2 linked regions of the Homo sapiens genome follow. The protein of the gene in region 1 interacts with the protein of each later gene in a pairwise test. Each region holds a gene or a part of one and is shown on either strand. Other genes may lie near its edges.

Region 1 (3,653 bases):
CCGCCTCCCGGGTTCAAGCGATTCTCCTGCCTCAGCCTCCCTAGGATTACAGGCATGCACCACCACCATGCCTGGCTAATTTTTTTTTTTTTTTTTTTTTTTTTTTAGTAGAGATGGGGTTTCTCCATGTTAGTCAGGCTGGTCTTGAACTCCCGACCTCAGGTGATCCGCCTGTCTCAGCCTCCCAAAGTGCTGGGATTACAGGCATGAGCCACTGCACCCAGCCTAAACCAACATTTTTAAATGGTTGTTAGCCACATTTGCAAACTACACAGGAATTTTTTCATATAACTCTATTATAAATTATATAAGTATCTTTACACCAAAGGAATCTTTCGATTGTTCAAATTAGCAAGAATGTTTTCTACTGAGTGTTATTGTAGATGGTAAACAATAACCCTAGGCCTTTAAATGATGTGTTCAATACCGTATTTTGTATTTTTTAAGATTTAGATGTATTTTACAGACTTTGTCCAAACTAGTTTCATTAGATACATCATTTTTTTTTTTTACCAGTTTATTCCATTTTTAAGGTGAAATTTCATTCTATTTCTGAACCAACACTTTTGGTAAAGGCCACAGACTCATTTGTAAAACATAAATGGATGAAATATATCAGAGGAAAAAATAAGATTCAACAGTCAGAAATAAAGTATAAGAGCAATCTGGCCGGGTGCAGTGGCTTATGGCTGTATTCAATCCCAGCACTTTGGGAGGCCAAGTCGGGTGGATCACTTGAGGCCAGGAGTTTGAGACCAGCCTAGCCAACATGGCAAAACCCCGTCTCTACTGAACATATAAAAATTAGCCAGGCGTGGTGGCGTATGCCTGTAGTCCCAAATAGGAGGATGAGGCATGAGAATCGCTTGAATCCAGGAGGTGGAGGTTGCAGTGAGCCAAGATTGTGCCACTGCACTAGAGCCTGGACGACAGAAAAATAAATAAATATATGTATTTATTTCCATCTTTGTACCTTGACTAACATACCTTTATAATGGCCAGAAATGTCATGTTCAAATTTAGAACTGTAAGGCACCCCATACTCCTACGTGGGAAGAACCTGATCCCCTTTTCTTCCCACCTCCAGCACATCCCATGCTTGAAAGGACTATGCATGCATGTGAACACTCTAGCCCACATGTCCAAGTTCTGCCCACATTCTCAGCAAACATCCACTCCTTGGCTAGTCCTTAGACACAGGGATACAACTACTTAGAAAAACAAAACAAAACAGAACAACATACACCAGGTTTGGAAGCATAAGTCCTAGAACAAATGGACCAAGAATTTAAAACTAAGAATAAACATGTTTAAAAAGACAATACGAAACAAGAACCACAAATCCCAAAAAAGAAAAATCAGATATATTACATATAGAAAATATAATAGCTAAAGAAATAACAGATGGAATAAACAGTAGGATGGCTCCAGAGGAAGAACAAATTAATGAGCAGAAAGGCAGATCAATAAACTCTTCCAAAAGGAAACAAAGTTAAAGAAATTAAACCATATGTGAGGAACACTAATAGATAAAGAGGAAAGAAGTAGAAATGCCAACAATCAGAAAACGAGAAAACAAAAACAGAGGAAATATTTGAAGAAATAATGAGCTTCTGGTAATAGCACCCTAGGTGATTCTGATCAACTCTTCCTCTGAGCAAAAAAGAAAAGATGGGGAAAGTTTTAAAAAATCTCCTTGAATATAAATTGTTGAGAACTAACAACTGAAGTTACCAAATGCAGGAGAGGCTGGATGTCCAGGGAGGTGAGTGCAATGGATGAAATCACTTTTTCCATGTAAGTGATTTGATTCCAGAGGGGGAAGCAAAATTGCTGAAGTATAGAGTAACTTTTTGATGGTACTGGGGACAAGGAGAAAGACATGGAGGCTTGGACTTGCCAAGGCAGAAGGGGTCCCTTGGCAGGACACGTGGTCCTGCTTACCCTACTCTCCTATTAGTTTGGGCTCAGAGCCCAAAGGCTTCACCTAAAGGTAATCGTGTCCAGAAGTAAACAGGTCCTCACATGTACTGATTAAGAAACTGAATTGACGTGATCCTGGATTGTTAAGGTCTCCAGGCACCTGGAAGAAGCAAACACACATCCTTTCTTGAAGAAAACATCATCCTAGGCCTCAAATTATCCCTGCAAATAATTCTGCAATATAATGTTTGGTATATAATAAAAATAATTTTGCTATATAATGTTCAGCCTATAATAAAAAATAACAAAGCAAATAGGAAATAAAACATCATTAATGAAAACCAGAAACAACAAACAGTACAAAAAGAACCACAGGAAATCTAGATATTAGATTGTAAGTGTAAACCAAAAATAAAATTCAAAGGCCCCCTGCAACCATCTGAGTGGACTCCCTCCTGGGCCAGGGCACTCTGAAATTTAACCAGAAAGACTGGTTAAGGCCATGATGGGAAGCTGGGGATGGACATGCCTCATGATACCCTCCAGTGTTAACATCAACACAGACCTTAAGTCTGAGAAGAAACATCTACAGTCTATTCTCTCTAGAGCCTACTATTTGCAGGCTTCATCTGTGTGATAAAACCTAGCTCTCCACAACTCTTTATCATAACTCTTTCAACCAACTGCCAATCAGAATATGTTTAAATCTACCTATGACCTGGAAGCTCCCTGTCCCTCTTCAAGTTGTCCCACCCTTCCAGATCAAACCAATGTAAATCTTAAGCGTATCTGATTGATGTCTCATGTCTTCCTAAAATGTATAAAAGCAAGCTGTGCTCTGACCACCTTGGGCACACATTGTCAGGACCTCCTGAGGCTGTGTCATGGGTGTCTAAAAGATGGGTACTTCTGCTCGGTGTTCAAAGAAGCCAACTCTTCCTTAACCTCAACTTCAAAGAGGAGGCATTTAGTAGAAGCTGCTCACAGGGATTTTGTGAAGTCAGCCTAAGGATGGAGCTGATACAAGAAGGGGGCAAAGCCGCGCAAAGAAATAAAGCCAGAGCTCTGATGCAACCAAGATGAGGGGCTGGCCTGCCTCTGGACCCCTCAGTTTGTCAGCCTATACACATGTTGTTATGAAAAGGCCATGTGGGTAGGCTTTTTACAGCTAAAGACACTGGACTAACACAAAGGTTGGAAATAGAAAGGGGATTTTTAAGTAACAAACCTTAAAGTGTGAAACTGGCTCAGCTATAGAAGAGTAAGGAAGACCTCCTCTATCTCATGCTGGGAATTTGGATATCGTTATTATATTGGTTAAAGCACCTTTGTTGTACCTTTGCACCAGACTGTATGACTACCAATAACATTGTACCGGAGAAACTGAGAGGAAAAAAATGCAGCTATCAGTGTTTTCACAACTCCTTGTGGCTTTCACTAAGATTCTACACCCAGGTGTTTTGTGAATATTGGTCTCTGTGCTTTTCAATGTTTTTAATTATCAAAATATAACATATTCAGAACTCTCAGTATTAAAAAAAATTAGGTCTTAAGAAAATACTTAAGGAAAAGTCTTAGATCCTATTTGTTCCTGACCGTTGTTGTAGGGTCTTATACTCTCTTATTATAATGATCAGAAATCATCTGGCCAAACACAGGGACTATAAATTTGGAGGTGAGAGAAGATTAAATAATTTTTGCTTTCAAACTTTAACCTTATGGAATTATGA
Region 2 (3,653 bases), on another chromosome or scaffold:
AAGTGGCCGTCTAAGGGAAAATCCCAAACTGCATGTGAAATCATGGCAGTGATGCTCTCTCTCTGGCTGGTATAGTCAATAGCTGCCTCGCTCCACTGGGGACTTCTTGGAGGTTCACCTTCCTCCCTTCCCTGCCCTCTAATGGGTAGACATGTGACTGCACGGAACAGCAGCAGCAGGGAGGGCAGAAAGCATAGGCAGAGCTCACACAAGCTGGAAACTGTGTGTTCTTAAAAATGTACTCAGTTATTTTCTCTGGTGTGGAGAGCAGTAAATTATGTGGTTTGGAAGCTACTACTACACTACTATTTCCTGAAAGAGCTTTCTAGCACGGCCTGTCACAGACACAAATTTACAAGTATGCCTCAGTCTCTCTCTGAGAACACAGACGAATACTGAGCTTTATTAGTTGGAAAAATATGCTAAGATTCAACCAGACAAGCGTGTTTTAAAAATTCTATTATTATGGTTAAACTTTTATAAACAAATGTTAGAGTTAATTTAAAAACATTTATATTTGGACATGCAACCATACTCAAGTGCCTTGTAACATATTAAATAGGCCGTTTTAGATCATTATTAATGTTCCAGACAGAAAGCTGCTCATGCTCCCAACAAGTGACAGGTTAGTGTGACCCATCACATACCGTCCATCTGCATCTTCTTTGGCTGCATAGAGGGGGAAGACATAGAAGAAGTCACCCGGAAGTTTGCAGGGAGAGTCTCTGCTGACCCAGCAGCTAAGCCACGAATGTCCTTTGGTCTAAACTTTTTTCTCCATGAAGGTGCTCTCCTAAAGCTTTTATCATCATCCTGGTAAATTAAGGAACAAAAAACAAGATTCATTTAAAAAATAAAGGTCAGAGATGTAAAGTTACATGTCCTTTAAAATGACTGCTGATCTCGAGAATGTATTCTTGTCCACATGTATTTAATCCCTTCTTGATGACCACACAATATATTGCCCAACCTGGAACTTCAGCGTGAAACGGGGCATGGTGATGGTCCGGCTGGGCCTCAGCTGGCGAAATGAGGTCGGTGCTGGGCCATGAGGATGTGCTCCTTCTCCACAGCATCATGTTCTACTTCTTACACCTTGCAGGAATCACTTTCTTGCAACGTAATACGTTTTTATTTATCTTAAAAATAGTTTATTTTTCATTTTTATTTATGTTTTTACAGACAGAGTCTAGATCTGTTGCCCGAGCTGGAATGCAGTGGTGTGATTATAGCTCACTGTAACCTCAAACTCCTGGGCTCAAGCCATCCTCCCACCGCAGCCTCCTAAGTAGCTGGAACTACAGGTGTGCCCCTACCACACGCAGCTCTACAAACAATTTTTAACTAGAAACAATTTTATCTTATGCCAGGATATAGCAACAAGTGCTTCATCTTTAGAGGTGGTCTTCTATTCTCTCTGTCAAACTCAACTTTTCTTAAGGTCCAATTAAGAGACTCCTAATCGTGTGGAACAAATGAGTCATGGTTTTAAGGGGAAATTAACATTTTGTGTTTTTAATATACTTCTGAAACATGCCACCCCACCCATGCACAGGAGTATGGGGGTACACTCTGGACTGGGGTAGGATAACTACTGGTCCCCAAAACCCAACTTACAGACTCTGTTCCTAAGCTGCAACCAATGTTTTATGATGTGAAAACCATTTTTGAGGGATGTCAAAAATTAAATAGCAAAAATAAAAACAAAACTACCTTCTTGAAGGTATTACTTTTGTGGGTTTTTTTTTTGCGGGGAGGGGGTTTCTTTTTGAGATGGAGTTTCTCTCTGTCGCCCAGGCTGGAGGGCAGTGGTGCGATCTCAGCTCACTGCAACCTCCACCTCCCAGGTTTAAGCGATTCTCCAGCCTCAGCCTCCCAAGTAGCTGCGATTATAGGCACCTACCACAACGCCCGGCTAATTTTTGTGTTTTTTAGTAGAGATGGGGTTTCACCATGTTGGCCGGGCTGGTCTTAAACTCCTGACCTCTGGTGATCCGCCCGCCTCAGCCTCCGAAAGTGCTGGGATTACAGGTGCGAGCCGCCGTGCCCGGCCCAGGTATTAGTTTTTAAAGGCTCATTTGTGAATAAATGTATAAGAGCAAAGCCTGACTTCTAACATCCAGAGAGACTGCCTAGCTACATGATGTCCCAAGTATAATAATAATAACAGCTTACATTTCACACACATTTAAACATTTACACACATTTCAGACATTTAAAGAACATTAGGCCAAAAACTTACTTCATCAAACCTTCTATCAGTCCCCATGACCAAAAGGTTGTTAAATTCTCTTTCCAAGACAGCACGAGCCTGAAATAACCAAAGAAAAACAAATAAAACTTTCATCAAATCTAATTTGAAGGGTGTTAGCATCGTAATTGTTTTTTAAACCAAGACTTAAACTCCCTCACTGCTGGCTGGGTCTGGTGGCTCACGCCTGTAATTCCAACACTTTCGGACGCCAAGGCGGACAGACCACCTGAGGTCAGGAGTTCAAGACCAGCCTGGGCAACATGGTAAAACCCCGTCTCTACTAAAAATACAAAAATTAGGGCCTGGGTGTGGTGGCTCATGCCTGTAATCCCAGTACTTTGGGAGGCCGAGACAGGCAGATCACTTGAGATCAGGAGTTTGAGACCAGCTTGGCCAACATGGTGAAATCCCATCTATACTAAAAATACAAAAATAAGCCGGGCACGGTGGCGTGTGCCGGTAATCTCAGCTACTTGGGAGGATGAGGCAGGAAAATCACTTGAACCTGGGAGACAGAGGGTGCAGTGAGCCAAGATTGCACCATTGCACTCCAGCCTGGGCAACAAGAGCGAAACTCCATCTCAAAACAAACAAAAAAACAACTCCCTCACTGCTATGACTACATTGAACCATAATAATATTTTAAATCAGGGCATCTAATGTGGAGTCAATGGATGGGCTTTTGCAGAAAGGGATCCATGATCCTTGGAGTCATATTAACAAGGGTGTGTTGTGTGGGTTGGTCAGGGGTATTGGCCAAAGATATTCAATTTTTTTTTTTTTTTTTCCTTTTTCTTTGGGATGGGGGTCTCACTCTGTCACTCAGGCTGGAGTGCAGTGGCGCAATCAGAGCTCATCACAACCTCCACTTCCCGGGCCAAGCAATCTCCCTGCCTTGGCCTCCCAAGTAGCTGGGACTACAGGCATGTGCCACCACACCTGGCTAATTTTTTTGTATTTTTTTGTAGAGACAGAGCTTCACCATGATGGCCAGGCTGGTCTCGAACTCCTGGACTCAAGCAATCTGCCTACCTGGGCCTCCCAAAGTGTTGGGATTGTGGGCATGAGCCACCTTGCCTGGCATATTCAATGTTCTGTAGAGGAATAAAAGTTCCCTGTTTTTCAAATGAGCCCATGAGTCAAAAAGAATGGCATAAGGCAATTACCCATAAAAACAAAATTAATAAAATCTTCATGTGGCACACCTAAAAACACTTCTCTTTCCATGTAAGAACTAAATATATGTCACTCTTCTGATCAGGCACATGGGCTGGAATGAAAGATCGTCCTTATCTGGTTTATTGCAGGACTCTCATGCTTCCAACAGAAAAGGGAAAGCCAATAGACCAAAAAAAAAAAAAAAAACCAAAAACTAGTTGTCTGAAGTTTTTTTTTTTTT

What was found. The genes of interacting proteins can lie anywhere in the genome.
Region 2: the proteins of DTNB (region 1) and PPFIA1 interact in binary tests that used the Homo sapiens proteins (3 or more experiments, as listed by UniProt).

What each region holds. Positions count from the first base shown.
Region 1 is NC_000002.12:25,621,531-25,625,183, forward strand, and holds part of DTNB (dystrobrevin beta), read right to left. Parts: intron 1-3,653.
Region 2 is NC_000011.10:70,375,190-70,378,842, reverse strand, and holds part of PPFIA1 (liprin-alpha-1), read right to left. Parts: intron 2,312-3,653; coding exon 2,243-2,311; intron 814-2,242; coding exon 648-813; coding exon of another isoform or gene 640-647; exon of another isoform or gene 372-639; intron 1-371. UniProt on the Homo sapiens protein: May regulate the disassembly of focal adhesions. May localize receptor-like tyrosine phosphatases type 2A at specific sites on the plasma membrane, possibly regulating their interaction with the extracellular environment and their association with substrates.